Linked DNA regions of Homo sapiens. The protein of the gene in region 1 interacts with the protein of each later gene in a pairwise test. Each region holds a gene or a part of one and is shown on either strand. Other genes may lie near its edges.

What was found.
Region 2: the proteins of MAGEB4 (region 1) and RUNDC3A interact in binary tests that used the Homo sapiens proteins (3 or more experiments, as listed by UniProt).
Region 3: the proteins of MAGEB4 (region 1) and USHBP1 interact in binary tests that used the Homo sapiens proteins (3 or more experiments, as listed by UniProt).
Region 4: the proteins of MAGEB4 (region 1) and USP25 interact in binary tests that used the Homo sapiens proteins (3 or more experiments, as listed by UniProt).
Region 5: the proteins of MAGEB4 (region 1) and FERD3L interact in binary tests that used the Homo sapiens proteins (3 or more experiments, as listed by UniProt).
Region 6: the proteins of MAGEB4 (region 1) and ARID3A interact in binary tests that used the Homo sapiens proteins (3 or more experiments, as listed by UniProt).
Region 7: the proteins of MAGEB4 (region 1) and ZRANB1 interact in binary tests that used the Homo sapiens proteins (3 or more experiments, as listed by UniProt).

The regions. Positions count from the first base shown.
Region 1 is NC_000023.11:30,240,197-30,245,267, reverse strand, and holds MAGEB4 (melanoma-associated antigen B4), read right to left. Parts: upstream 3,269-5,071; 5' UTR 3,133-3,268; coding exon 2,092-3,132; 3' UTR 1,081-2,091; downstream 1-1,080.
Region 2 is NC_000017.11:44,311,013-44,315,534, forward strand, and holds part of RUNDC3A (RUN domain-containing protein 3A), read left to right. Parts: intron 1-1,567; coding exon 1,568-1,683; intron 1,684-2,091; coding exon 2,092-2,240; intron 2,241-2,405; coding exon 2,406-2,491; intron 2,492-3,722; coding exon 3,723-3,812; intron 3,813-3,916; coding exon 3,917-3,997; intron 3,998-4,142; coding exon 4,143-4,308; intron 4,309-4,439; coding exon 4,440-4,522. UniProt on the Homo sapiens protein: May act as an effector of RAP2A in neuronal cells.
Region 3 is NC_000019.10:17,247,922-17,251,981, reverse strand, and holds the end of USHBP1 (harmonin-binding protein USHBP1), read left to right. Parts: coding exon 1-71; intron 72-277; coding exon 278-400; intron 401-1,567; coding exon 1,568-1,757; 3' UTR 1,758-2,811; downstream 2,812-4,060.
Region 4 is NC_000021.9:15,872,504-15,877,025, forward strand, and holds part of USP25 (ubiquitin carboxyl-terminal hydrolase 25), read left to right. Parts: intron 1-1,899; coding exon 1,900-2,023; intron 2,024-4,522. UniProt on the Homo sapiens protein: Deubiquitinating enzyme that hydrolyzes ubiquitin moieties conjugated to substrates and thus, functions in various biological processes including inflammation and immune response.
Region 5 is NC_000007.14:19,143,605-19,147,117, forward strand, and holds FERD3L (fer3-like protein), read right to left. Parts: upstream 1,818-3,513; 5' UTR 1,759-1,817; coding exon 1,258-1,758; 3' UTR 1,178-1,257; downstream 1-1,177. UniProt on the Homo sapiens protein: Transcription factor that binds to the E-box and functions as inhibitor of transcription. DNA binding requires dimerization with an E protein. Inhibits transcription activation by ASCL1/MASH1 by sequestering E proteins.
Region 6 is NC_000019.10:928,256-932,777, reverse strand, and holds part of ARID3A (AT-rich interactive domain-containing protein 3A), read right to left. Parts: intron 3,765-4,522; exon of another isoform or gene 3,633-3,764; intron 3,517-3,632; 5' UTR 3,250-3,516; coding exon 2,882-3,249; intron 361-2,881; coding exon 36-360; intron 1-35. UniProt on the Homo sapiens protein: Transcription factor which may be involved in the control of cell cycle progression by the RB1/E2F1 pathway and in B-cell differentiation.
Region 7 is NC_000010.11:124,969,118-124,973,639, reverse strand, and holds part of ZRANB1 (ubiquitin thioesterase ZRANB1), read right to left. Parts: intron 1,676-4,522; coding exon 1,522-1,675; intron 1-1,521. UniProt on the Homo sapiens protein: Ubiquitin thioesterase, which specifically hydrolyzes 'Lys-29'-linked and 'Lys-33'-linked diubiquitin. Also cleaves 'Lys-63'-linked chains, but with 40-fold less efficiency compared to 'Lys-29'-linked ones.

The DNA.
Region 1 (5,071 bases):
CAAAGAATATACAGCATTCTAAGACATGGAACAATAAAATCAGCCCAAAACGCAGCTTACAAAGAAACTCTAAATAACTTTTCCATATTAAATCATATTTTGAGTGTGGAGTTGTCTTTCTCAGCTGAAAGCAACTCAAACCTTCTAGGCTTTGGTTCAAGGACCAACTCTGACCTTTCATCCAAACCAGTCTTATTTTCATTCATTTTACCACCATCAAAAATCTAGATCTCCCTTAGAATTTGCAAAAACACATGAAAGGAAAAAAAATTCCTTTTAATGGAATGGGTTCTGGCTCCCCAGCTGATAGCAGAGTATTAGCCCAGTGGCTTATGAGTTTCCAGTCTTAAAGGAGTATCACCTTTATTTCTCAGAAACACCCTGGGGACTACGCTCATAAAACACCTAGTTTGTGTACTGGATTCACTTCACTTGCACTGGGACAAGAGCACCGGCCACTTTCAATCCCTGCTCCAGGCAAAGATCCCCTCTGGTTTTTCCACAATCCCAAAGTAACTGTTAAAGGCAATTTTTCATTCCAGTCTCCATCTCTCAAGTGTGAGATCCACCATCTGAGTGTGTGACCCCTGCTCAGTGCGCCCCATATAGGCACTATGCCAGGACATAAAATTACCTCCTATTGCAGTATGTTCAGTTTCCCGAAGTCTCAGTTACCTTGCTTAGGACATTTACACTAGATTCCACTGCTGGTAATACCCCCACCTTCTTTTTTATCCCCTTTTCACCTGTCTTTAGGTCTTAAGGAGTATCTCATTACCTTCGTTATATGATAGCTGCTGTTGGATTCTAAAATTCTGTGGGCAGGGATTGGGGTTTTTTTGTTGTTTGTTTGTTTTTTGTTTTCTTAGCTTATCCGGTACTAGCCAGGAGCCCTCCAAAGTACAGCTGCTCAATTAATATTTGGACAATTGAAGTGTAAGTGACCAGGAAGTCAAATGTATTGCTATTTAATTTCCCCCACATTCCTGAAAAAGCTAAGCAGATCCGGGTACATATACTTCAGTTTTACAAAGAAAGACTAAAAAGAATAAAACAAAGCAAGAATTGACCACATTTTACTTTTTTTTTCTCTACTTCCTGGTCCCACCAACTTTATTGCAAGGTAATTTCCTTTTCACAAATTCCATATTCCAATGCCATATTATCTTGTTCTAGATCACAGAAAAAGACTTAAAAGATTTTTAAATTGTTTTACATAATGCAAAAATTCTCACTCTCCAACCTGATATATTTTAATAAATGAGTGATTCATGCCATTCATAAACTTAGATTCTGAAACTAAATAAATCTACAATTTAAAAAAAGAACACTGAAAAACAGGAAAAAGAAAAGATAAATCATTTTACATACAAATATGTTATACATGGTGTTCCCACCAACTCCCCTTTGGCTCTCCATTAATTAGAAGGTTAAGTGTTTTCTTAATCAAAAGTAAAGAATATACCTCAGACTTCACAAGGAGTGGGAGACACTGCTGGACACCACACTGAAACATGCCAGGCCCAGTTGCAACACTGTCTCTGGCTCTCTCTCCCTCATCTCTTAAAGTCTTCTCTTAATGGAGGGAAGACAATGGAGACACTGTCATTGACCTTGGCCCAGGCCTCCACATTCTTGAATAATCTAAGCAAACCAGGTATGTAACTTTTAAATTTATGAGCAAAAAAAGACTGAACTGAGTAAGACAAACCACGAATAAAGCAACTTTTACTTTTCTTCCCTTTCTATCTTCAGATTCTACCTATTTTACTGTGGAGTTATTTTAAATTTCTAAGGATAACCTTACTCCCATGCCGTGTTATTTTGCTCTGTATCACAAAAATTATTTCAGGATTTTCTATTTGTATTTCAAAAACAAAATTATTATCACTAAACCAACCTGATAAACAGCAATAAATGTGTGATGCATGCCATTTCTAAATTTATATTCTGAATCTAAATAAACTTTCTATTTTAAGAAACATCATGGAAAATACAACAAAGAGATAAATCAATGAGTTATTCATGCATCACAGGAACAGAGAAAGCAGCAGGTCTTTCAACCACAAAGTGAACAATTTGCCTTAGATCTCACATGGGTTGGGAAGAGCTACTGGATGTGGCCCTGGAATACGCACTAGTCATGGCTGTAGTGCCACGCCTGGCTGCAACTCTGGGCCGGGCTCCAGCTCTCTCTTCTTCATCTCTCAAAGCCTCTTCATAAAGCAGTGGGAAGTTATTGGGGGTGGTGTCATTCACCTTGGCCAAAAACTCCAGGACTTTCATCTTGCTGGTTTCTGCATGAGCTCTTGGACCCCACAGGAATTGATAGCGTGGGGGATCACTGTTGGGCACCTGCTGGTATTCCAGATATTTTTCCTGTACCAGATCTTGGGTGATGAGCTTTCGGGGTTCCCCAAAGATAAGGTGCCTCTTTCCATCATAGATCCCCAGCATATTCAGGAATTCCCAGATTTCCTCTTCACGGGCACAGTTGCCATTTAAGAAGATCACACTCAGTAGAGGCATCAGAAGCCCATTCCTTGGAAGGGTCCAGGCACTGCTCTGGTTTCCATCGTTGGGGCCTAGCATGCTGACGAGGATGTAGGAGTGAGTGGTGGGGTTGACCTCCTTCAAGGCAAGGCCAAAGACCAGCTCCGTGCGCTGAGAGACTTTCCTGAAGATCTCAGGGAAGTGCTCCTTGTACTTTTTGCTGATGATCTTCAGCATTTCTGCCTTTGTAGTGGGCTCTTTCATTTTATACTTGTACAGCAGGAACTGCACTAACATCTTCGTCTTCCTGGTTAGAGAATCTTTGAGTGATCTCTCAGTGGATGTTGAGGCCTGGGAGGAACTTGCATTTTCCTCATCTTGGCTCTCGTCGCCTTTATCAGATCCAGTGCATGACATAGCTGCAGCAGCAGAGGTGGTGGGTGGCTCTCTCTGAGGCTCCTGGGGAATGCCAAAAGCAAGGGAGCTGGAGGCAGTATCCCTCAAAACAGATGAGGAAGAGGAAGGAGACTCTTCTTTCTCTGCTGCAGTAGGCTGACCAACCTTGAGATCCTGGGTCTGACCACGGGTCCGCTGGCGTTTCTCACGGGCACGGAGCTTACTCTTCTGACCCCGAGGCATGATGGCTGTGGTTAGGCACAGCAGGCAGGAGTGTAGGCAGAAGGGCAGGTGATGTGGTTCCTGGAGAAGAGCAAATGAAATCCTGAGAACACCTTCAGCAGGCAGATACTACCTTGGCTTTTCAGAAGCCGCCTCTGCAGGATTCCTTGAGAACACTGCTCTAAGTATTCACTGGGCTATTGTTCTTAGTCATTCTGTCCCCTGAGAAGCCAGCTGAGGAAGTTACAATGTGCCTTAGGCTGCAGCTTGCCAACCCTGCCTGGGGCTGACTGGGTGACAACAAGGCTCGCAGTGGGGCTTTCTGTGTTCTGGCTTGGAGAGGATCCACTCTGATTACCTTTAGAATTGTCATGTCAGCTCTTGGCAGGGCCTGAGCCTCCCTCTATTGGTGTTGTGAAATTGACTCTTTAGTTTTCTGGGACCCAGATGAGGGAAGTCTAGGGGCCCCTCAACCCACCACCCCTGCCTAGAAGCATTTAGTGCTCTCTCTGTCCTGGGCTCTTTAGGTCCCAAGTTTGCACTCAGGATCCTCATCTGGACTCCAAGCAGGGTTGTGGACTGTCTCTTCTGCTGACTGATAACTGCAACTTCAGACCAAGAATTTCATCTTTTCTAGTTCTGGTATAAAATGTGATGGGCATCTATGAAAGAAAATAATTGATAATCTGGACTTCGCTAAATTAAAACTTCTGCTCTGCTAAAGATACCACAAAGAGAATAAGATAACTCCCAGGTTGGGAAAAAATTATTTTCAAAAGACATATCTGATAAGGGACTGTTAACCAAAACATACAAAAATGTCTTAAAACTGAACAATAAGAACTGACCAACCCTATTAAAAATGGACAAAAGATCTAAACAGGCACCTCAACAAATAATATATATGGAAGGCAAATACGTACATGAAATGATGGTCAACATCACATATCATTAGAGACTTGCAAATTAAAACAATAATGTGATACCACTACATACCTATAAGAATGGTCAAAATCAAAAACCCTGATAACCCCAAATACTGATGAGGATGTGGAGCAACAGGAGCACACTGTCATTGCTGATGGACATGAAAAATGATACAGCCACTTTTGAAGACAGTTTGTAAGTTTCTTACAAAGCTATGCATACTTTCATCATATGATCTAGCAAGTGCGCTCCTTGTTATTTAGCCAGATGAGTTGAAAACGGTATGTCCACAAAAAAAACCTGCACACAAATGTTTATAGTAGCTTTATTCATAATTGCCCAAACTGGGAAGCAAGCAATATGTCCTTCAGAAGGAGAGTGGATAAATTAACAGAATAAAATATTATTCAGCACTAAAAGGGAATGAACTATCAAGCCACAAAGAGACATGGATGAAACTTAGATACATATTACAAAGTGAAAGAAGCCAATTTGAAAAGTCTATACATTGCATAATTCCATCTATATGACATTCTGGAAAAGGCAAAAGTATGGAAACAGTACAAAGTTCAGTGGTTTCCAAAGGTTGGGGAGAGTGAGAGATAAATAGATCAGGCACAGAGAACTTTTAAGGCAGTAAAACAATTCTGGATGATTCTATGGTGGTAAACATATGTCATTATACATTTTTAAATATTAAAACCACAGAATGTGCAGCAACAGGAATGAATCCTAAACTACGGACATTGGGTGATAATGATGTGTCCATGTATTCTCAATTGTAACAAATGTATCACCCTGGCTTGGGAGGTTGATATGAAGGAGGCTGTGTCTGTGGGAGGACAGGATGCCTGTGAGACTCTCCTTTCTGCTCAGTTTTGCTGTGAACGTAAAACTATTCTAAAAAAGAAGGTCAATTATTAAAAAAAAAAAGTGATGGTGAGTCCTCAGCCTTACATGTTGCCCTGGCAATTTAAGAGTTATGCAGGGGGGTGGACTCTGTTGCTCTCTCTATTCAGAGGTGAGCAGTCCC
Region 2 (4,522 bases), on another chromosome or scaffold:
GGCAGGTACGATTGTTCCCATTTGCATTTGACAAGAAGGGACTCACAGAGGGGCCCAAGGCCACGTGAGTGCCACAGGGAAACAGGATTTGAATCCAGCAGGCTGCCTCCCTCTAGTGCAACCCCAAGACTGACCTGGCTCTGATCTCAAGGCAGTTCAACTCCAAGTTCAAAAGGAAGGGGGACGAGGGCTCAGCTGTGCAATTGGCCTGAGAGCCTCAGAGGTCAGTGGTCCAAGGCTGGAGACTTGCAGAGTAGAGGACAAAGGGCGGTGGAGCAGGGGCTGCTCCAGGCCTTGGTCATCACAACAGCTGCCAGGAGGCCACAGATGTAGCAGAAAGAGCAGAAGCTTCAGAATCAGAATCAGACATACCTGCTTGACTACTCATAAGCCATGTGACTCCGAACAGATCAGTCAACCTCTTGGACCATCAATTTCTTTACCTGTAAAATGGGGATGAGAGTAATACTAAGAGGACCTACCTTTCAGGGCTGAGCATGGGTAAGGGAATGCATGCAAAGTACTGTGCTTGCCACATTATAGGGCTTGATAAATATAAGAAGAAAAGGACATTTCCAAGCAGCTCCCATTTCCCTGGACACCCCGCCCCTGCTCTGCCACCCACAGCAGGGAAATCATGGGATGTTAGGAACTGTGTCCTCATCCCTGCCCTACTCCATTGCAGGGATGGCAGGGGGAGATTGCAGGGGTAGTGACTGCAGAGGGAGCCTGAGGCTTAGACAGGACTGGAGAGGGGGCACTGCATGGCTTCAGTCCTTCAGCCCCACAGGCTTCCCTTAGTCCCTTCCTCCCAAAGAAGCCAGGCCCCCAAGCCCCTTCCAGGGATCTGCTGCCAATGCCCCCTCCTGCCCAGTGTCTGTGTCAGGCCCATACCCCGCACCTCCCCACCCCACCCCCGCCCAGCTCTGCACTGCCTGGTTCTGGGCAGCTGGTGTGTGGGAGGCCAAGCCGGGAAGGAAAGGGGGGAAGGGGGTATCTGTGTACTGGGAGCCCACCTGGCCACCTGCGCATGCCCACACTCCATGTGCACAGTGCCAACTCACATGCCCTGGTACAGGTGACCCCCATCCCCAAAAGGGACTGAAGGTTGCTCCAGCAATCACAGAAGACAGCTCAGGTGGGGCACACACTGGCTTCTAACACCTAGTTGACCCAGGCCTCGCACACACAGACCCTGAAGGGTGGTCTATGGGGAAGGGGCTCCTGGACCGCCCCCGGCTTGTGCCTCATCTTCCTATTTTTTCAGTCCCTCTCACCCCTTGCTCCCGAAGCTTCCTTTCTCTGGCTGTCACCTCTCCTGTCACCCACTTTGTCAATCAGTCTCCCACCTGTCACCCTTCCTCCCCATCTGCCACCCTCTCACTCCACATGACACGGTACCTCTATGGTCACTGTAGTCTTGCCTGTCTCCCCACTCGCTCTGCCCCCCACCACATCCATGCCCTTCCTGACCTTTCTTCTCTGCCGGTTGCTCCCTGTCTCTCCCTCCATCACCTGTTTCCTCACCTGACACCCCACTGCCCCATCTCCCCACCTCGCCGCCCAGGTTCTCTGTGAAAACGCTGCTGGAGAAGTACACAGCGGAGCCCATCGATGACTCATCGGAGGAGTTTGTCAATTTTGCAGCCATTTTAGAGCAGATCCTCAGCCACCGCTTCAAAGGTGGGCCCAGCGCCCCTCCCCCAGCGGTCCCTCCCCCAGCGCCCCTCCCCCAGTGGTCCCTCCCCCAGCGCCCCTCCCCCAGCGGTCCCTCCCCAACTCCCAACCTTTAGCTCCCAGCCACCTCTTTCTGATATACTCCATGGACTCTGAACCCCCTCATTGACCCTGGCCCCCATTCTGGGCCATGCACAGAAGCTTGTGTACAGATCTGGGAAGAGGGAGAGGCCTTTGGCCTACAATCCCCATCATGGGCAAGCGATATGCTGGGGTGCCCACTGCACACGTGCATGTGTGTGCACAGATCTTTGTGGGAGGAGGCTGCTTATGCTTATGCATGTGAGTGCCTCACTACATGGACCCTCTCCAAACTCCCTGGTCTTGCTGAGCCCCCTCCCTGCCCTGGCTCAGCCTGTGCCCCAGCAGGTCCAGTGAGCTGGTTCAGCTCAGACGGGCAGCGGGGCTTTTGGGACTATATCCGGCTGGCCTGCAGCAAAGTGCCCAACAACTGTGTGAGCAGCATCGAGAACATGGAGAACATCAGCACAGCCCGGGCCAAGGTGAGGGGCCTGAAGCAAGCAACTGCTCTCTGCTCTGGACACAGGGGGCCTGCCTGTTTCTTGGTTTTTGCCCCCTGTGCACAGCCCAGGGGAGAAGGGCCCACACCTGATGCTGGACACATGAGTCCCTCTGGGGCAGCAAGTAAAGGTGAACATGATTTCCAGGGCCGGGCATGGATCCGGGTGGCACTGATGGAGAAGCGCATGTCAGAATACATCACCACGGCTCTGCGTGACACCCGGACCACCAGGTCAGACTTCCCAGGCAACTCAGACCACAGGTCTCAGAGTGCACCTGCATTGCCCAAACACAGCTGATCCTTAAGTTCCTGCAGCATCCTTCAGTTCCTGGACTACAAGTCCCAGCACCAGCACACATGGCTGATTTCCCTCTTCCAGCCTGGCCTGCAGTCCCAGGACGAACTCTTTTTTTTTTTTTTTTTTTTGAGAAGGAGTTTCGCTCTTGTTGCCCAGGCTGGAGTGCGATGGCGCGATCTCGGCTCACTGCAACCTCCGCCTCCTGGGTTCAAGCGATTCTCCTGCCTCAGCCTCCTGAGTAGCTGGGATTACAGGCATACGCCACCATGCCCAGCTAATTTTGTATTTTTAGTTTCTCCATGTTGGTCAGGCTGGTCTCAAACTCCCAACCTCAGGTGATCCTCCCGCCTTGGCCTCCCAAAGTGCTGGGATTACAGGCATGAGCCACCGCTCCTGGCCCCAGGACAAACTTTTACCACCACCACCACCACCACTTGCAAGTCAAATCTAATGCCCATTATTTGCCATCAATGCCCAGCACGCTCCACCCTTGCACACCTCTGGATGAGCCTCAGCCATGCACCATCTCAAGTGTTGGCTTGCTCCATGATCTACAACACAGCCCTTCTGTCTCTCCAAACAACGAAAGCAGTTCTGTACTTGCTATTCACGGACACAGAGTCCTTATATGGGGAGTTCAATCCCTGCACTGTGGGTTCACAGGGAGGTTGGGTGCCTGAGGCAAGGGGTTACAAGGAGGAGTGTGCCTGTGTGGGCAGGTGCATCTGAAGCTGTCTGGGTGTGGCGGGGGGCATATACCTCCCCATCCCAATTGGCCATACCCAGCCTGATGTTTTTACTGAATTCCATTCCTCAGTCTACACGTTTCAAGTTAACACGTTTTTTGCGCACCTACTGTATACCAAGCACTAATGATTAAGACTTGCTTCCTGATATGAAGGATCTGGGTAACCCAGTACTTGATGAGGAAGGGGTAGCTCAGAGGGAGGAGTCGGCTCAGGGAACACCCATTCTAGGTGATGGGGCCACAGGTGCGAGCCCCAGGCTGAAGGGGGAGAGAGGCTCCAGGCCTGCGTGCAGATCAGGAAGGAGAATTGGCCTTCCTTCAGGATGGGGTGGCAGTAAGCCAACAATAGCAGCTCTGGGGGGGGGGGGGGCGCTCCAGGGGCCTGCTGCATCCTCTGGCCCTCTGCCTCCCCACAGACGGTTCTATGACTCTGGAGCCATCATGCTGCGGGATGAAGCCACCATCCTCACCGGAATGCTGATCGGACTGAGCGCCATCGACTTCAGGTGGGGTCTGCCTGACGGCAGTGGTGGAGGGGGCTGTTTCCCCCATAAATGTCCTACCCCAACCCCTCACACCCACCTCCAACCCTGTGGCTCCTCTGCCTCAGCTTCTGTCTAAAGGGGGAAGTCCTGGACGGGAAGACCCCCGTGGTCATCGATTACACGCCCTACCTAAAGTTCACGCAGAGGTGAGCGGCTCCATGACTGCGGCGGGGCGGGGGACGGGGCCTCGGGACATCCTGGGGACGTCCTGGTCCCACCGCCCTCAGCGGCCAGCGCAGACGCGCGGGGGGAGGGGCGGGACCGGCCGTGCCCACTGCTCCCTCTCCCAAGCTACGACTACCTGACGGACGAGGAGGAGCGGCACAGCGCCGAGAGCAGCACGAGCGAGGACAACTCGCCCGAGCACCCGTACCTCCCGCTCGTCACCGATGAGGACAGCTGGTACAGCAAGTGGCACAAGATGGAGCAGAAGTTCCGCATCGTCTACGCGCAGAAGGTGCGCGACGCCGGCGGGCCCGGGGGGCGGGCGGGCCGGGCGGGGGATCCGGGCATCCCGGGGCGGGGCGGGGATGGGGGCCGCGGCCGGGACGTCCTCCCAGCCGCCCGGGCTGAGCCGGCGCCCCGCAGGGCTACCTGGAGGAGCTGGTGCGTCTGCGCGAGTCGCAGCTGAAGGACCTGGAGGCGGAGAACCGGCGGCTTCAGCTGCAGCT
Region 3 (4,060 bases), on another chromosome or scaffold:
GATGGTGGCCAGGTGGGCAGAGCCTGGGACCCAGAGAAGTTAGCCCAGGAACTGGCAGCATCGCTCACCAGGTGTGTGCCTGGGTCCTGGGCTGTGCGGGGGGTGGGCAGGCAGCCTATGTGAGAGCCCCCGGGGGTGTCGTCTGCAGTAGAAGCTAAGGTGTACCCCGGTGTACAGGTGTGTTTACATGACAATACTGTGGGCAGGTGGGTAGGAGGAGACCTGGGAAACAGGATCGGCTGGGGCTGTGAGCCCCCTCTCTTCTCCTTCGCAACAGGACACTGGACCTGCAGGAGCAGCTGCAGTCTCTGCGCAGGGAGCTGGAACAGGTGGCTCAGAAGGGGCGAGCCAGACGGTCTCAGAGTGCCGAGCTGAACAGGGATTTATGCAAAGCCCACAGGTAGGACTGTTCTGCATCCCCCCAATCCCCCTGGCACCATCCCCCACCAGGATATCAGAAGTATCCCTGGCTGTCTCTGGGCCTTAGCATTCCCCACTGCCCCAAGATAGGCAGTAACGGTCAGGTGTGGTGGCTCACACCTGTAATCCCAGCATGTTGGGAGGCTGAGGCCAGCAGATCACTTGAGGTCAGGAGTTTGAGACCAGCCTGGCCAACGTGGTGAAACCCCATCTCTACTAAAAATACAAAAATTAGCTAGGCGTCTTTGCACGTGCCTGTAATTCCAGCTACTTGAGAGACAGGAGAATTGCTTAAACCCAGGAGGTGGAGGTTGTGGTGAGCAGAGATCACACCACTGCACTCCAGCTTGGGTGACAGAGCAAGACTCTGTCTAAAAAAAAAAAAAAAAAAACAACAGGCTGGGCCAGGCGCAGTGGCTCACGCCTGAAATCCCAGCACTTTGGGAGGCCAAGGTGGGCAGATCACCTGAGGTCGGGAGTTCGAGACCAGCCTGACCAACATGGAGAAACCCCATCTCTACTAAAAATACAAAATTAGCCAGGCGTGGTGGCGCATGCCTGTGATCCCAGCTACTCGGTAGGCTGAGGCAGGAGAATCGCTTGAACCCGGGAGGCAGAGGTTGCAGTGAGCCGAGATTGTGCCATTGCACTCCAGCCTGGGCAACAAGAGCGAAACCCCATCTCAAAAAACAACAACAAGAAAAAACAGGCTGGGCATGGTGGCTCACGCCTGTAATCCCAGCACTTTGGGAGGCTGAGGCAGGCGGATCACCTGAGGTCAGGAGTTCAAGACCAGTCTGGGCAACATGGTCAAACCCTGTCTCTATTAAAAAATACAAAAAAATTAGCTGGGCGTGGTGGTGGGCGCCTGTAATCCCAGCTACTTGGGAGGCTAAGGCAGGAGAATCACTTGAACCCTCGAGGCAGAGGTTGTAGTGAGGGGAGATCTTACCATTGCACTCCAGCCTGGGTGACAAGCGCGAAATTCTGTCTCAAACAACAACAACAACAACAACAAAAGACCAGCTAGCTGGGACCCTTGGAGACCCAATGTGAAAGAGCCCCCATTCTGGGAGTGGGAGTACACGGCCCTTGCCTTGGGTGGACTCGGGGGCTGTTTCCTGACCCAGCCACCCACCCCTTCCAGCGCCCTGGTCCTGGCCTTCCGAGGAGCCCACCGGAAGCAGGAAGAGCAACGCCGGAAGTTGGAGCAGCAGATGGCACTCATGGAGGCTCAGCAGGCCGAGGAGGTGGCGGTGCTCGAAGCCACTGCAAGGGCCCTGGGGAAGCCCAGGCCTCCCCTCCCGCCTCCCCAGCTTGGGGACACCTTTCTGTAGGCCCCTTACCCAGCCATGTCTGGACATGCCAGACAGCTGTGGCATGTCATAAACTGTCCTGGAGTGACATCATGTCATGTTGCATGATTTGGCATGTTGGGGCACATTTGGCGTGAGGGAAGCTGGTGCACATGGGTGTCCAGGGCCTGATGGGGTGTGGCCAGGCAATGAAGAAAGACTCAGGTGTCTTTGGCCTGGCACCAAGTGGAATGTGAACTTCATATCAGTGGGGTCAGGCCAGAAGCAACCTGGGCTATGGGACCAGGTCCCTGGGACTGACGCATTTCGGGGGTCCGTGAGGTTGCATAGCCACAGCTGAAGTTCCAACTGGCCTGTCTCCCGAAGCCCAGGGAGGGATTCATGGGGACTGGACAGAGCTTCTCCTGGCAGCCCCTTCCCAGGGAGATGCTGGGTTTGGCTGGCAGATTTTCCTGAAGGGGGCCGGGCTCAGTGGTGCACATCTGTAATCCCAGCATTTTGGGAGGCCAAGGTGGGTAGATCACTTGAGCCCAGGAGTTCAAGACCAGCCTGGGCAACATGGCAAAACCCCATTTCTACAAAAAAATACAAAAATTAGCCAGGCGTGGTGGCATGTGCCTATAAAGATATTTAGGAGGCTAAAGTGGGAGGGTAACTTGAGCTTGGGAAGTGGAGGTTGCAGTGAGCTGAGATCACGCCACTGCACTCCAGTCTGGGTCACAGAGTAAGACCTTGTCTCAAAAAAAAAAACAGGCCAGGCGTGGTGACTCATGCCTGTAATCCCAGCACTTTGGGAGGCTGAGGCGGGGAGGATCACCTGAGGTCAGGAGCTTGAGACCAGCTTGGCCAACATGGTGAAACCCCCGTCTCTACTAAAAATACAAAAATTGGCTGGGTGTTGTGGCACATGCCTGTAATCCCGGCTACTCGGGAGACTGAGGCAGGATAATTGCTTGAACCTGAGAGGCGGGGGTTGCAGTGAACCGAGATCGCGCCAACAACAAGATCGTGCCCGGGCAATAAGAGCAAAACTCTGTCTCTAAATAAATAAATAAAACACAAAACAAAACAAAAAGGAGGGAGACTGAAGCTGGAATGGTTCAGATTCAGGGTGTGGATGACGAGTTGCTACTAACTCAAAGCTAAGGTCAAGGGTTTCTGGACTCCATGTGGTCGAGCTTGCCTGTAATCCCAGTATCTCAGGAGGCCGAGGGAGGAGGACTGCTTGAGCCCAGGGGTTTAAGACCAGCCTAGGCAAAATAGGAGAGTCTGTCTCAAAAATAAATAAATAAAATAAGGTAAAGGGTTTCTGGGTGGGGGACAGGCATAGCAAAGGTAATAGTCTGGGACTCAGGGGGCGTTGTACTTCAAGAGAAACTCAGAATGAATGCCAATGGTGGCCAGTTCCAGCTTTCTCCTGGGGGCCCAGGAGCTGTGGGACGTGTCAGGTTAATAGCAGGCAATGAATTAGCATGTCATTTGCATAAGTCACATCTCCCTGCCCCTCCACACCAGGACTGGCTGAGTCTGGGAAAGGGGAGCTTGGAACGACCCAGCCAAGCTTGGATTAGTGGCCAGCTGTCCCCCTTCAGGGTGGCAGCTGAAACCCGAGACAGGGATTAGAAAGACTTTCATTCCCAGCCTTGGGGGCAGGTGCTCCAGGCCTCACCTGTGCAGGTGTGTTCACCGCCTCTCCCAGGGCAGGACCACGTCAGCCTGAGGTCAGCGCCAGTCAGCGGCCTGGACTTGAATCCAGTCAACCTGACCCCAGAAACAGAACAAGAAGTATGGTGGCGAGCACAGTCCCCTCCAGCGAGGGCTGGGGCTAGTCACCTTCCGACCCACACGCTGTCCCTGGACTTGGGCCAACTTTGAAGAAAGCAGGGAAATGGAGGCAGACCACCTTGCTCGTGTTGGGGTGGGGCAGAGAAGCTGAATTTCTTCCCTGTACCCTGCCGAGCCCCAGAGTCTAAGACCTGAGTTCCTGGTCCCACCAGGTTGCCTGTGGAGGGGCAAAGGGAGCCAAGGTCACATGTGGGAGGACGGAGACAGGTTCCCAGGCTGCCCCAGCAGGATCTGGCCATTCCCACGGGTGCCCCCTCAGCAGATGGGCCTAGGCCCCTTTGTCCCTGGTTTGCGGCCGCCGCAAGGTCAAATGTTACTGCAGGGCCGCGGGCAGGGGTCAGGGAGGCGGGGTAGAGCCTTGATCCACCCCCAGGCGGGCCCCAGGGGGCACAGGGGTGGCCAGGCTACTGGAAGGGGGTGGGGCAGCCTTTGGGACTGGAACTACTGGAGTTTCTGGGATCTGCGATGGTCTTTCTTCC
Region 4 (4,522 bases), on another chromosome or scaffold:
GATGTGCTAGTTACTTATTAATTAACGAACTACTACAACTTAATGTTGTAAAACAACTTTTAATATTATCACTTCCTTCGTTTTTCATAAATAACATCTTTAACTGAGAATATGTTTATTAACCTAATATCATTTCAAAATAAAATGTTATACTTAATCTCAAAAACAAATTCCTAGAAAGCCGTTTTCAAAAAATGTATAAAATAGACCTATTTATCATGACACCTTCAGGTGTGTAATTTGATTTGCCATGAATGTATACATTAATTTTTAAATAATTTTACATTTAACATTTGGGATGTGGAATGGATTTATTTTGTATCTAAGTACATGAATTAAGTAATAAACAGTAATTATTGGCAGGAGCGTCTAGAGTTTAAAATTGTGTTTCTTTACAATATTTCATTTTTTAAAATATATTTTTCCATATTAATCTGTGAAAAAATATATTAATGAAAAACTGACGCAAAGGAAATATTTTAAAATAATATTTTTTATTTCAGTTATACAAATACTTGGCTAGATATAGTTTTTATTTTGACATGTTAGAAGGATAGTTTTGAGGTAAAAGTAATTCTTTATTAAATATTTTTTTCTTCCATTTTTGTTTTGTTTTGTATTTTTGAGTTGGGGTCTTGCTCTGTTGCGCAGGCTGGAATGCAGTGGTATGATCATGGCTCACTACAACCTCTTACCTTCTCAGCTCAAGAAGTCCTTCCTCCTCAGCCTCCTGAGTAGCTGGTACTACAGGCATGTACCACGATGCCCAGCTAATTTTTTTTTTTTTAATGTTTTTGTAGAGATGGGGGTGTCAACTATGTTGGCCAGGCAGGTCTTGAACTTCTGGCCTCAGCTGATCCTGTCACCACCACCTCCCAAAGTATTGGGATTACAGGCATGAGCGACTGTGCCTGGCCCCTTTTCTTCCCTTTTTAAAACCTAATTTGAATTTCATAATATCTAGACTTACATTAATATAACACATATGCCTAATTCTATCACTTCTTTTTTTTTTGAGACGGAGTTTTGCTCTTGTTGCCCAGGCTGGAGTGCAGTGGCGTGATCTCAGCTCACCTCACCCTCCACCTCCCGGGATTCTGCTACCTCAGCCTGCCGAGTAGCTGGGACTACAGGCATGTGTCACCATGCCCGGCTAATCTTGTATTTTTAGTAGAGGCGGGGTTTCTCCATGTTGGTCAGGCTGGTCTCGAACTCCCTACGTCAGGTGGTCCGTCTGCCTCAGCCTCCCAAAGTGCTGGGATTACAGGTGTGAGCCGCCGCACCCGGCCTCTATCAGCTTTTTTATGTTTGCAGGCTTTTTGTTTTTGCTTTATTCCACTAGGTTTCCCAGATTTAGAAGAAATCTTTCATTGTCCACTTCCTCTATTTCCTTTAGATATTCTTATTTCTATTTTTTTTTTACATTTTTCTCAGTAACTAAAACTGTCTGCACATAGAAAAGAACCTGTCTAAGTTGTCATTGAACAAACCAAATGATGTTTGTGATCATTTACTTCATATAAATGTGACATTGCGTTAAACAATTAGATTGTTGGCTTTCACATTAGCTCCAATTTTGAGTTTAAATGGAAGACATCAGGAAAATAAATACCAAGGAAAACAGAACTATCTGACTTTATCAGTTATTGCCTCTTTTCCCAGATTTTTTCTTAATTTATAGCTCTTCTTTTTTTACTTTTAAGATAACTATCTCTGGGTTTCAGATGTTGCTGTTGCTAAAAAGGCGCTCTCAAGCATACACTGCGTCAGATGATATTTTTTATTATAATGTAGATTATCAAAACTTAAGCATATACTTAAAATGTTTCATAATTATAGCTGACTTTGTTTCTACAAAGGTGAAATACTAATGTTATATGTTTCTTTTTAATTTTCAAGTTATATAGATTCCTTGCTGTTCCTCATCTGTGCTTATCAGAATAACAAAGAACTCTTGTCTAAAGGCTTATACAGAGGACATGATGAAGAATTGATATCACATTATAGAAGAGAATGTTTGCTAGTAAGTTGAATGCATATAGTATGATCTTATCATTTTGTCTGACATTGGGCAAGTTTTCCAGACTCATATATAAGTGATTGACTCCATAAACTCTGAGGGGATAAGAACATGATGATGTCTATAAACTGGTTCTAGTCCCTTCAGATGGAAAAGTACACTCAGTACTTTATTCTTTTCTCTTTATGAATCCCAAGTACTATAGGTGATAAATGAGAAATGTTCTTAAAATAGCATCAGTTTGTTTACATTTCTGTATTTAGATTTCGTCATCACACTACCACTCCTTTTTTTGGTGGGAGAGGAAGGGATGCATAGATAAGCCTTAAAAAATGTTTTATGTAAGTCTATAAGAATATGCAGGCTGGCGCAGCAGCTCATGCCTGTAATCCTAGCACTTTGGAAGGCTGAGGCTGGTGGATCACAAAGTCAGGAGATCGAGACCATCCTGGCCAACGTGGTGAAACCCCATCTCGACTAAAATACACAAACACAAAAATTAGCTGGATATGGTGGTGTGCGCCTGTAGTCTCAACTACTCAGGAGGCTGAGGCAGGGGAATCGCATGAACCTGGGAAGTGGAGGTTGCCTTGAGCCAAGATCGCGCCACTGCATTCCATCCTGGCAACCAGGTGACAGAGCAAGACTCTGTCTCAAAAAAACAAGAATATACATAGAATGTATTAGAGTAATTTGTTTAACTTAAAAAATTGAATTTTCAGGTACAAGAATAGTATAGCTGACTTTAAACATACATAGAACCAAAACCTGATGGTTCCTCTGAAACCTTCAAAAAATGGTATAATGTTTCTCATCATTTTTTGTAGTAACCCAGCCACATTTGGTTATTTGTTTTACATAGGAATTGAAATGAAACCTCGTCAAGATTACTTTAGTGTTCCTTTCAGATTTTTTCACGTTGTATATTTACAAAGTGTCAGGTTCTGAGGGATACAAACATGAGTAAGATGTACTTCCTGTCCTCAGAAAACTCAGTCTGGTAGGAGACATAATTGTTTGTTCTGGAATAAGTGCCATTATGAGAAATATGCACAATGATATGCCTGAAATATTTGGGAAGAACCTTAAGAGACAAGGTAAACCTCGTCTGGATCTTGATGGATAAATAGAAGTTTTATTCATGATAGAGAAGGGAGAATATTCCAGTACACAACAGAAAATCAAGATAAATTCACTGTGGCTATCCAGGTTATGAGGAAGTGGGGTAAGGTGGAAGTGATGAAGCTGACAATACTTGTCGATGTCAGATGATGAAGAAACTTAGATGACATTCAAATGAGTTTGCACCAGTGTAAGTTTGATTAGGTTTGGCATAATGAGGTTTGTTTTCAGAAAATAATTCTGGTAATAATAATAGCATTCTAGAGGATGAACAGGAAAGAAGTAGATTGAAGTCAAGAACCTTAGAGGGGAAAGTCAAGGGACGGAGAGTGAGGACCTCAACTCATGTAGTACGGTAGGTATGATGGTGAAGGAAATGAAATCGGCATGTCATAGCTGTTGGGTGAGTGGGAAGAAGGAAATGGAAGAGTCAAAGCTGCCAAACTTACTAGTTTTTCGTTTAATATTAGGGAGTCTAATAGGAGGAACAAGGTTGGCTTTGAACATGTTTTATTTAAGAGATTTCCAGGACATTCTTTGATTCAGTGAACTTAACATTAAACTTGTCATTAAATTTTATATATCATTTAATGCATACTTCCAAAAATTGTAGTAAATACTTGAAGATTTATCTCATTTTATTCTCTTAACCCCTATGGTTGGAAGATAAAATACCCTATTATTAATATAAAGAAAGTGAAGCTAACAGATTTAGCTAATCTGTTCACGATTGGTGTATTAGTCCGTTCTCACACTGCTATAAAGATACTACACAAGACTGGGTAATTTATAAAGGAAAGAGGTTTAACTGACTCACAGTTCCACATGGTTGGGGAGGCCTCAGGAAACTTAAAATGATGGCGGAAGGTGAAGGGGAAGCAAGGACCTTCATCACATGGTGGCAGGAGAGAGAAGTGCAAGCAGAGGAAATGCCAGATGCTTATGAAACCATCAGATCTCATGAGACTCACTCCCTGTCACAAGAACAGCACTGGGGAAACTGTCCCTATGATCTGATCACCTCCCACCAGGTCTCTTCCTCAACACCTGGGGGTTACAATTCAAGATAAGATTTGGGTGGAGACACAAAGCCTAACCATATCAATTGGGTAATTGATTCATGGCCAAGTTGGACTTAATAGCACAACCATCTTTCCAAAATCAAAATAAATTGCATAAGAATTATGTGGTGTAAATCTAAATATATAACTTTTTTTATTTGAAATTCAGCTTAAAAGTCATGTTTATCATGCTGTAAACATAAGATTTTAAATAAGAACCCTTAAATATTATAGGTCTTATACCTGTATTTATCTCTTATGTTTCTTATTGCATGGATTTCTCTGTTCTACTAGATCAGTGATCAGCACACTATGGCTT
Region 5 (3,513 bases), on another chromosome or scaffold:
GCACGTCACCTAGAAGGAAGAATCCTGGAATGGCACGGGTCCAAACTAGAGGCGGCCTCTCAGCATGGACCCGCTTCAACCTCATCTGCATGGCAGGCGTTTTGCAAGGCGTCAGAAGGCATCTCCTCTTTGGACTTTTTGTCTCCCCTGGTAGTCTCTAGAAGCCATTAGAGTGAAAGCTATCTTTCCTACCTACAGCTAAAAATGTAAAAGTGAGCGCGCTCAGGCGGCCCTGCTCCTAGAAAGATCCAGGCCCCTTCATACCCCAACCCCTGGCCGGGGACAGTTGGTAGCGGTGGCTGGTGGCGAAGCTGCAGGGCGCCCAAGGCCCCCTGCGGCCCAGGAGTGACCCGAGTGCACTCGCCCCTTACTCTGGCCTGGGGCCTGAAGAAGGCACTGGAACACGGAAGCTGATGCTGCACTTTAGATGCAAAGCGTAGATTTGCACTCTGGCTAAGGCACTGAATGAACACCACTGTGGCCCTGGGACAAGGAGCTGTGGTCCGTCTGGGATCAACTAGGTGGCGAAGGGGAGGGAGAAAGGAAGAGAGAGGGCTTGCGCGCGGGAGAGAGGAAGGGACGGGAGGGAGAGGGAATGGAAGACAGGAAGGGTGTCCCTTCTCAGAGGTCGCACTTTGTCAGCAGTTCCTCTCGACTGCTCTGCCTTCCATTTTTCCTTTCCTCAGTTCCTGGACAAGCCTCGGAGGACCAGGCAGAACCCTCTGGCTAGCAGAAAAGCTCGCACCCCCGCACCCTTGCGGCGTCTGCTTCAGACCCTCCACGCAGGCGCCCGCTGGAGCGCCTGCTGGGGATGGCGTACCACCGACCCTTCAGGCTTTTTAAAAACGTAAGAATTTCTACTTTATTATCTCTATGAAAAAAAAAATGTAAAGAAGAGAGGTTAGATTTTATAGAAGCTCCAAAGTCTGCCATTTGCGAGGAGGGTTCACTTCCCACCCACCCAGCCCACGGAAGCTCTTAGGAGCAGCCTGAACGGCCCCGACTCAGCCTCACGCTCTCTGACTTCCCCGCTCGCCCCTGACCCCGACTTCACTTAGGGCGGTCGCGTAGATATGAACTCTACAGCAGCCACTCTGCTCAGCGCATGTGGGGATCTTACAATCTCGACCCCGACCTCCAGAAGACCAGACGTTCTGTCTTGGGGCCTCCCTCCCGGCCCTTTAGCCTCACCCAGTGCCCGGTCCTGACACACCCCAGCACTACCAGACGAGGAAGGGCAGACTCTCCACACCAGGCTCAGCCGCTTTCCTTCTTCTCACAGCTCTCCAAGAGCTCGGTCATGAAGGAGATATAGACGATGGCCAGGCGGAGGGTCTCGATCCGGGACAGCCTTTTCTCGTAAGCAAACGTGGGCACCTTCCTCCGCAGCTGGTCAAAGGCCTCGTTGAGGTTGAACATCCGCTTCCTTTCGCGGATGTTGGCGGCCTGGCGCTGGGCGTAGGTGATCACCCTTTTCCTCTTGGGGCGGCCTAATAGGGAGACACCTCTTCCGCGCTCCTCTTCCTCCTCCTCTTCTCCGTCCCCCTGGTCCACTTCGCACTCCTCTTCTTCTGGGTCCCCCTCTTCAAACCGCGCCATCCTCCTGGGTCTTCCCTCTCGGAGCGCAAGGGCTGGGTCCCCCAAGGAGACCCCGGGTGCGAAGTCGCAGAGGAGAGGGCGTCTCGGGGAGGCCAGGGACAGGTCTGCGACGAAGTCCAGCACCGTAGTGTCCACGCAGCTCTCCGGATAGGCCGCCATCGCTTCGGCTTGGCCCTGCCTCTCATCGGTTTTCCGCAGGGAGGGGCGAGGTTGCTGGTGGGGATTCTTAACAGCCTTGAATCTGATGGGGCACCATCACCGAAAGGCCAGGGAACATTAAATATTTATAACCAAGCTGATAACAGGATTAGTCGCACCGATAAGGAATGCTCTGACAACGTCCCTTCTCTCGAAGCTTATGGAAGATGACAAGCTTGAGCACGCATGGAAGACTCAAAGGGACAGGGCTCCAGTTCTGAGATCCTTTTCTCTGCGCCACCCGGGACAGTTCCTTGTTGGCAACAACCCCCAGCTCTTACCTGCTGTGCTTTTTGTGTCTGTCTTCACCCCTGCAGCCAACTAATGTTCTCCAGGCTCCTTATCTCGTGTAGTTCTTTAATTTCGTGTTGGATTTTCAAAGCGAGGATGTTTTCCACCGCGATGGCTTCTCCTTGACTTCAGGGTAGGAGTCTTGAATCTTGCCACCATCTGCCAATGGATGTGGAGCAAGTGCATGTGCTTTTAATGATGTCCTGAAGAGGGGCCCTGCCTGCCTGGCATCAAGGGGAGCTGTTTGTCTGGTATCCCAGTGCAGCGGCTGCTGAAAGGCAAGACCTTCAATTAGCTTAAGTAAGCATGGCAGGGGGACCGAGAGTGCATTCCCCAGAGTCGCTGTTGGAACCGGCTTTCTTTTCTTTCCAGGGCATCGCAAACAGCTCTCCTGCCACGTTACAAACCCTGACTTCTAAAGTCTGTTTGGATGCAATCAGCGTAACAATTGAGATACTTGACTTTCCTTTCCCTACCTTTACCTCCTACTCATATAAAATAGAGGATTTTATTCCAAGAGGAAAAGTTATGATGGCAATAAAATGAGAAATTTAAGCTCAGGATATTTTCTATGCTCGGGCTTTGCTGTATACTTTTCAGTGTGGGGGACAAAGCAAACTCTCCTCACAAACAAAACCACTTCAAGCTCTTTTCAGAAATGCGATTTGCCCTTGATAAGCCAAAGAGTCAATCAGCTCACCCTCTGCTGAGGAGTCTTCGGACTTTTAAATTGCGGATCGAGTATTTGTTCCCGAACAAAGAAAAAAACCTAACACTTCCATCTGGCGTATTTTCCTCATTGATTTGTATTGTCCTACAGTAAGACTTAAGTGCAGAAACAATGATTTATTGAAATATATTTAAGGGAGTTTTTGGCTATCGTTAGATCGTTATTTTTGAGAAAAGAAAGAGATTTTAAATTTGGCATAAGAAAAATAAGAGATTACTCATTTTATATTATCTCGAGTATCCCAAATATTTTAACAAAAAGGTTCTTTTTCTTTGTTTGCCAATAACTATATTTACTTAATTATTCAGTACTGTGTAAAGATTTATTTAAAAGACCCATTGTGTCAAAGTGACAGATTAGAAGATAATTTTAAAGGTAGATTGGAAGAAATAGCCTAAAAAGATGAATGTAGAAACATCCCGGTTCAAAAGAGAACTGCCCAGGACGTCAGTCCCTATTAAGGGGGTAAGTTGTGGTTATGATGGTTCACTCAGTACATTGGACAGCTCCCAGAAACCAGAAACCGCCTATTTCTAACAGGTAATCTCAATTCATTTTCTTCTTCCTAGCCTCTATGTGTGTAATCAAAACAGTATAACCTTTAATTCTTCTTCTTCTTTTAACCCATTTGTGTCTGGTGTCTCTCGATCTTTTAATAGATTTTATCTTCTTTTGCTTGTGTTTACTCTTCATTC
Region 6 (4,522 bases), on another chromosome or scaffold:
GTGCCTCAGCCGCCACGCGGGACGCGCCCACTCACCTGCTTAAACTGCTCCTCGTAAGTCCAGTCGCCGTGGTCAGGCGGCTGCAGCTGCGGGGCTACGTGGGCGGCCCCTCCGGGGTGGGCAGGGCCAGGCCCCGGCCGCTCCTGGCCCCCCAGCACCCTGGGAACGCCATCGCCGCGGAAGGCCTGGGGTGGCTGGGCCTTTCGGGGGAACAGTGCCGTGGTGCCCAAGCTGGCAGGGCCTGGGGGGCCCAGCCCCTCCTCGTCCTCCTCCTCCTCCTCATCCTCGTAATCCTCCTCCTCCTCCTCCTCATCCTCCCCGAGGTCTTCCTCCATCTCCTCCTCCTCCCATTTGGGCTTCCTGGGGTGAGCAGAGGGCAGGAGTCAGGGGAGAAGGTGCTGGCTCGTCCCAGCCCAAGGAAAGACCCACTCCCCGCCCAGCCTCAGTTTCCCTCTCTGGAAATAGGAAGAGCCGGCCGCCGCCAGCTCAGACTGCAGAGAGCGCTCATGAGCACAGCGTGGGGCACCCGTGACGCCCACTTTGTTTCCAATTAGCCCAGAACAGCACAAGCCGTCCCTACAGCGTGAATTTTGGGGCCTTGAAAAGCATCACGCAGGCAGCCACGGTGGCGCACACCTATAATCCCGGCAGCACTCTGGGAGGCCAAGGCGGGAGGATCCCTTGAGCCCAGGAGATGGAGGCTGTAGTGAGCTATGATGGCACCACTGCACTCCAGCCTGGGCCACAGAGCAAGACTCTCTTGGGAAAAAAAAAAAGGGAATCATTACGGCAGGCTGGTTCCTGCATCCTGCACCATGCATGCTGTCCCAGCTCCACCTCCCCTTCCCTCCACAGGGAGAATTCTCCCACCGCCATCTGAAATCCGCCCCACCCTCGCCACTGCCCCTCCACGGCACCCTCCTAGACTTTCTTGGCAGCCGTTTTTTTTTTTTTGTCTTTTTTTTGAGAGGGAGTCTCGCTCTGTCGTCCAGGCTGGAGTGCAACGGCGCAATCTCGGCTCACTGCAAGCTCCGCCTCCCGGGTTCATGCCATTCTCCTGCCTCAGCCTCCCAAGTAGCTGGGACTACAGGCGCCCGCCACCACGCCTGGCTAATTTTTTTGTATTTTTAGTGGAGACGGGGTTTCACCGTGTGAGCCAGGATGGTCTCGATCTCCTGACCTCGTGATCCGCCCACCTCGGCCTCCCAAAGTGCTGGGATTACAGGCGTGAGCCACCACGCCCAGCCATTGGCAGCTGTTTGTACAACCTGATATCACCTGCTTCTTTGCTGCTAGGTTTTGTTTGGTTGTTTTTTTTTTTTTTTTGAGACACAGTCTCACTTTGTTGCCCAGGCTGGAGTGCAAAGGCACGATCTCGGCTCACTGCAACCTCTGCCTCCCAGGTTCAAGCGATTCTCCTCCTCAGCCTCCTGAGTAGCTGGGATTACAGGCATGAGCCACTGCACCCGGCCAGTTTTGTTTTTTGAGACAGGGTCTTCTCTGTTGCCCAGGCTGGAGTGCAGTGGTGTGATCACAGCTCAGTGCAGTCTTGACCTCCTGAGCTCAAGCAGTCCTTCCGCCTCGGCCTCTCGAGTAGCTGGGACCACAGATGCATGCCACAACACCCGACTAATTTTTGTACTTTTTGTAGAAATGGGGCCTCACTAGGTTGCCCAGGCTGGTCTTGAACTCCTGGGCTCAAGCAATCCTCCCACCTCGGCCTCCCAAAGTGCTGGGATTACAGGCGTGAGCCACTGCGCCCAGCATCTTTGCTTGCTCAGGTCCTCCCAGGAAGATGCGGGTTCCTGGAGGCCAGGATCCCACAGCAAGTGAGCCCTCAGCCAGCCCTGGGGGGACCCACACGCTATGCAGGTCCAGCCGGCTGCAGATTTTATCTGCCCCTGCCGCTGAATCTGCTGTAGCCATCGGTGGCTAGGTTGCTTTAAGTTAACTAAGATGAAACAAAGTTGGCCGGGTGTGGTGGCTCACGCCTGTAATCCCAGCACTTTGGGAGGCCAAGGCAGGCAGATCATGAGGTCAGGAGATCGAGACCATCTTGGCTAACATGGTGAAACCCCGTCTCTACTAAAAATACAAAAAGTTAGCCAGGCGTGGTGGCGGGCGCCTGTAGTCCCAACTACTCGGGAGGCTGAGGCAGGAGAATGGTGTGAACCCGGGAGGAGGAGGTTGCAGTGAGCTGAGATCACGCCACTGCACTCCAGCCTGGGCGAAAAGAGCAAGACTCTGTCTAAAAAAAAAAAAAAAACCCACATTCTTGGCTCACTGCAATCTTCACCTCCCAGGTTCAAGCCATTCTCCTGCCTCAGCCTCCCGAGTAGCTGGGTTTACAGGCTTCTGCCACCACGCCTGGCTAATTTTTGTATTTTTAGTAGAGATGGGGTTTCGCCATGTTGGCCGGGCTGGTCTTGAGCTCCTGACCTCAGGTGATCCACCCACCTCGACCTCCCAAAGTGCTGGGATTACGGGCGTAAGCCACAGCACCCGGCTAAAAAAACCATTTTTCTTTTGAGACTGGGTCTATCTCTGTCATCCAGGCTGGAGTGCAGTGGCACAATCACAACTCAACTTCTGTTCTCAAGGGATCCTCCTGCCTCAGCCTCCCCAGTAGCTGGGACCACAGGTGCACCACCATGCCTGGCTAATTTTTTAATTTTTTGCGGAGATGGGGTCTTGCTATGTTGCCCAGGCTGGTCTCCAACCCCTGGGCCCACGTGATCCTCCCACGTCGGCCTCTCAAACTGCTGGAATTACAGGAAGGAGATCCCGCGACCTGACCCTTACTCCCATTCTGCAGATGAGCAGAGTGACACTCAGAGCCAGTAACAGCCCCCAGAAGGCCCTGCCCCAGACCCCAACTCACATGTCCTCGTCGGAGGCCATGTCCTCAAAGTGCTCCTCTCCTGGCCCTTCTCTGCCTCGCCCGGGTGAGCCCGGTGTCCCCTCCCGGGCCGCGTCCTCCTCCTCCGAGCCTGGGGGCCCATCCTCAGAGCCGCCGGGGCTGGCTGGGTGTCCCAGGCCCGCAGCTGCAGCCCGCATGGCTGCCAGTGCGGCCATCTGAGCCCGCTGCATCCGGGCACTCTCGGGCTCTCTGTCCTCGTCGGGGGCAGCCCGGGCCCGGCCGGGGGGTGCAGCAGGGGGATCGGGGGGCAGCTGCTGCCGGGCCTCCAGCTCCTGGCGCGCCCGCTGCTGCCGCTGCAACAGCGTCTCCATCACGGCCTGTAGTTTCATGGCCCTGCGGCCCGGGCCACCACCACCACCACCACCACCACCACCACGGGCGCTAGGGGTGGGCGGCGGGGGCGGCCCCTGCGGGGAGGGGGCCCGGCCGCACTGCAGCGTGGGGGCCGCGGGGGAGCCGGGGCAGTGCAGGGTGGCAGGGGGCGGGGGCGGGGGCCGCCGGGCTCAAGCTGAAGGCTGATGGGGCATGCCTCTTCCTCACGCTGGGCTCCAGGGGACAGAGGCTGGCATCCGGCTCATTCACGCATTTGCAGAAACCTGAGGGGGAAAAAAGGCACAGTCAGAGCAGGCCTGAGCTCCTCAAGCCCCCTCCTTCCTTCCCCATGAAGGCCCTGGGGATCAGCTCTCATGTCCATCTCATGCAGGATGCAGACCTGGAGGCCTTCTTGGAGGCAGAGGCGCAGGCTCTTCGCATACAGCCTACTGTGGGCCTGGGTAGCAAGGTCGCCCCGCACGGGGCCACAGAGAAACACGCTGTGGCCAGACTGTCTGCCCCAGGAGATCTTGGATTATTGCTTCACAAGCAGGGTGGGGGAATGGGCGTTCCTGGCCTGTGATTGGCCAGCGGGCTCCGGGCCCCAGTCAGGTGGGTTCTAAGTTCCAGTCGCTGCCTGAGTCCCTGTTGGAGCGGCCCAGCCTGGCCTCCAGGTATCTAGGTATCCTCCCATCTCAGGCCAGACTGGAGATTGAGCGCCTGTTGTATACGGGCCCTGGGCTAACCCTCCCCCCATCACACAACTCAACAGCAACGCCCAAGCCACAACTTCTCTGGACCTCAGGTTCCCTACCTGCAAAACAGTGTGGGTAACAGTACCCCCCCAACCCATGGCACTCAAGGAGGGATGAATCGAGTTCAGGAGGTTAAGGTGGGCACCAACAGGTGTCAGAGAAGGGGGCACCAGGGCGGTCCCATTTCATGGTTGAGGACAACTGAGGCTCAGGGATCCTCTGCTTGGAGACATGGCGGTGGGATTTGAACCCAGGTCTGGGTGACCACAGAGCCTCCCACGCAGACCCCACAATCTCTGCAGGGCAACAGGGGTCTGGAGTTTCCCGGTCCTCTGGGATCCCGAGTGGGCCAGATGTCTCGGACGGCAACACACTCACCCAGCCTAGAGTGCCTTCCACCCAGGGCCAGTCCTAATGGCCTGGGTGAAGAACAGAGACTCCTGGGGCCTGGGTCCCACCCGAGCCACCCCCTAGCCCAGGCCACACCTCCACCCGCCCAGGCCGCCAATAAAACAGGCCGGGCAGAACCCAACAG
Region 7 (4,522 bases), on another chromosome or scaffold:
AAGAAAATGCAAACTTAAAAGATCTTTTGTTTCATAACTTACACTTAACTTATACTTAATTACACTTATTAATTACCTACTAGTAACTTTCTCTAAAATAACTCCCTTTCCATTGAAGGTTATCAGATAGCTTTTTCTTAATATACCAGTGTAACATGTGTGATATAAAATATTTCTTTTCTGGGCCGGGTGCAATGGCTCACGCCTATAATTCCAGCACTTTGGGAGGCTGAGGCCAGCATACTGCTTGAACTCAGGATTCTGAGCCCAGCCTGGGCAACACGGCAAAACCCTGTCTCTATACAAAAAATATACAAAAATTAATCAGACAAGGCAGCAGACACCTGTGTCCCAGCTACTCAGGAGGCTACGGTGAGAGAACTGTTTGAGCCTGGGGAGGCCAAGGCTGCAATGAGCCGTGATCCTGCCACCGCACTCCAGCCTAGGCGATAGAGTAAGACCCTGTCTCAAAAAATAAAAATAAAAAATAAATTTTTAAAAATCTAATCATTCTGGGGTAAGCTTAAATACTCAGAACAAGTGCATTTCAAATGAAACTTCCTCCAGTTTCAGAAAACTTAGTTACTATCTCCTACAATTTGTAAAAATCCGTTTGTCTGAACATAAAAATTAAAAACACTGAGATCTAGCCTGAGTAATACTGCGAGACTCCATCTCTACAAAAAAATTAAAAATTAGCCAGGGGTGGGTGGCATGTGCCTATAGTCCTAGCTACTCAGGAGGTCAAGGCAGGAGATCACTTGAGCCCAGAAGTTGAAGGCGCAGTAAGCTATGATCACGCCCATTGCACTCTAGCCTGGGCAACAGAGCAAGACCCCGTTTCAATCTAAAAAAAAAAAAAACAGCAACAAAACAAACAGATCTCAGAATCTCAGATGAAAGATTTTAGAAACGTTTGGTGTTTGGTGTATTTATTCAATGCCAACTGACAAAACGCATTCTGGAGGATGTTTTCAACTGTCAATGAATTGAAAAATGAAAAGTTCCTTCACAAACATAGTAGAAATAAATGAGTAAAAAAGGAATGACATATTCAAGAGGATGCAGTGTGTTCAATTCAAATAACCTGACTCTACCCATCAAAAGCTCATGTTCTAATCCCATCTCTTAATACCAGGTAACCAATATAGCTATCTAATTTCAAATAACACACAAGCATGAAAAGGGAAAATTTTTCAAAGGAGATTTTTTTAAAGGATATTCTAAAATAAAACCAAAGAGAAAAATAAAAGAGTACAACAGATTTTTAAAAAATAATCTGAGGTCCACAAAGAAATCCGTTACTATCAACTGCTGTCTTCCTCTCAGATAGCAGACGCATTTCCTAACAAGTAATCCTCTGTATGCTCACTTCCAGCATATATAAGACAGTCAAGTAATTTAAGATGCACATACAGTAGCTATGTTATGTGCTTTCTAACAGAAACATTTTTCACCTACATACACAAATGTAACTATAATAAAATAAAAAAGTCTTTTTACGTTAGATTTTGGAGTTACCTGCTGGCAATGTAAATGTTACAAGGTCAGTCAGAAAATAGCAAGCAAAATCCCCCTTTCTCTGATGAAGAGAGGCAGCTATCTCTCTCCGGATTTGTTCTGTCAGTTCAGGACACACCATTGCTGGAATACACTTTGCTGCTTGTTGAGACACCTTAAATACAAAAGAAACCTTCCTCTCATCTCATGTATCATAAGTGGAAGCAGAAAACAACAGTATTTAAAAGAAATCAGCAAAATTTCCCAATAACTCAAGGTTTTCTTTAATCTTAAAATACACTGGTATTATTTCCTTACCAATGAAAGTATATACCAGAATAAGTTTTCAGTAACAGTCACAAAAATGTTTTATCCTCTGATTCAGTAATTCTCTTTAAGAATTTATCACAAGGAAATACTCAAAGATGCACATAAAAATGTATGGAAAAGGGTGTTGTTCATAGACACATCACAGGAAGAGGAGAGAGGACAGAAAACCTCAGTAGACTAACCATCGTGCACACAATAAAAACATTCTTTAGAAGCAGAGAATCACAGCTGATAAAGGGAAACTGCAAATACTCTTCTCCCACACCACAAGTTTCAAGTACCCTAACTTGGACTTAAAAAAAGCACGGTATTTAAAGGGTTAGTTCCCACTGACCTCAAGCCCTTTCTTCCTCTCCATTTGTTACCACTCTTGAGTTTTTAAAAAAGCATTTGGCATCTGCAAGTTTAAACACAGACTGCCAACCTCTGAAGCTCAGCCTGACAGGAGTGAGATGGGAGCACTACTGCACAGGCCTCTAAGCAAGAAAACAACAAACCAAAGAAGGCTAGAACTTTCTTTTGTTATTTTTTTATTCTTTTTAAAATGCTAAATAGCAACAAATGTTGCAAAGATTTAATTTAACCTCACATTTCAGTCATATCTAGTTTGTGGAGCTAAATAAAAATACATACACAGAATTCTAAAATCACAGTTGAGCATCTGCGAGTAACAAACAGAATTCAAGGCCAGGCACAATGGCTCACGCCTGTGATCCCACCAACTCTGGGAGGCCGAGGCGGGTGGATTGCTTCGGCTCAGCAGTTTGAGACCAGCCTGGCCAACATGATGAAACCCTGTCTCTACTAAAAATACTACTACAAAAATTAGCTGTAGTCTCAGCTATTTGGAAGGCTGAGGCATGAGAATCACTTGAACCCGGGAGGAGGAAGTTGAAATGAGCTGAGAACGCGCCACTGCACTCCAGCCAGGGTGACAGAGAGAGACTCTGCCAAAAAAAAAAAAAAAAAAAAAAAACCCCAAAGAGAATACCGTGGGAACCCACAGTGAGCCTGTTCCCTGATGTCACCAACCTGGACGATTATCCCAAAGGTAGCCTTCCAGCCACAGTGGGGTGTGAAGCAACAGGTCTTCCAGCCCCTTCTTCTTCTTCTCAAAGAGTAAGGTTTAATGATAATGTTATCTACATCATATATGCAGACAACTAACTGCTATTGCTATTAAAGAAATAATATTTCAAAAACCCTGCATACCCAGCACAGTTACCTGACTCCCTATTCTGAAACTGCAGCTTGGTGCAGTGGCTCACACCTGTAATCCCAGCACTGTGTGAGGCCAAGGCAGGAGGATCATTTGAGCTCAGGAATTCAAGACCAGCCTGGGCAACATAATGAAACTCTGCCTCTACAAAAAACCCCAAAATATTAGCTAGGCATTAGTGGCATGCACCAGTAGTCCCAGCTACTGGGGAGGCTGAAAGGTGAGAGGATCACTTGAGCCAGGGAGGTCAAGGCTGCAGTGAGCCATGATCACTCCCCTGGGCAACAGAGAGAAAGTCTGTCTCAAAAGAAAAGAAAAAAATAAAAAATTTAAAAACTCCTACGTGGAAATTCAGTTCAACTAGACTTTATTGGCCAAGATTACCATTAACCATGAAAATTCTCACTATATCTTAACTCCATGAGCCCAACCATTAGTCAACACTCAAACATGGAAAACCAAATATTAAATATTTTCAGAATATAATTGACTATTTCTCAAGTAACATAGTTAAAATGGCTCCCCCAAAGTAAATTCAAAAATAGCTTATTCCCATCAGCTAGCTCTCAGGCCCTTTCCAAAAACCTGGAAAGACCTTTCCAAAAACCACCTGGACTGGACCCTGACTACCACAAACATTCTAAAAGAAACTTAGCCCCCAAACAACCCCTTCCACCACCATCCTTAAGCAGGATGTGCCCCTGAAGCCTGCCACTCACCTTCTCACCTCCTTCAACCTTATGGTTCTCAACCATCTCCGTAGGCTGGGAGTTCTTAACTTAGGGTCCATGATCTTGGGAATGGTCCATGTACTTTAATGGGAATTTGGTTTTAATTCAAGTTAAATCAATTATCCCCAACTTTTTACCTATATTAAAATGTATTTTCTTATATATCACAAATTTAGTTTAGTATTTTGGTAGCTATTACTTCAATACAACTGATTTCCTTTGTAATCTCATTTACTTCTTATTTTTTGTATTTAAAAACAGTATTCTGGGAAGGAGTCCATAAGTTTCATGAAACTACCAACATGGTCCATGACACAGAAACCGATGAAAATTCCTGCCCCACATACATATCCCCAACTCTAATGTTCTCCTGTTCTCATTCCAAAAGAACTTGGCTGAGCATTCTCTGCAACACACCCCCTTAGTCTAGACTTAGTCCAGACTCCCCCACTTCCAGTCTCCCTACTGGCCCCTTTAATTCTGTCCTTTGGAGTATTTACTCCATGGAGACTGAATCCATGACCAATTTTGCTCTTTGCCTGGAACAAATCCCCTCCACCTCTCCCACGCTGTTCCAGGGTTGTTCTACACGTCCCACGGAATACAGCAAAAGTAATGGTATGTTGCTTCCTAAATCAATTTATAAAAGACACTGCAGGTTTCAAAGACACTGGATCACTCTCTTGTACTCTGTGCCTCTCTTGGATCACTTGTTGGGGGTAAAACCAGCTGCTGTATCATG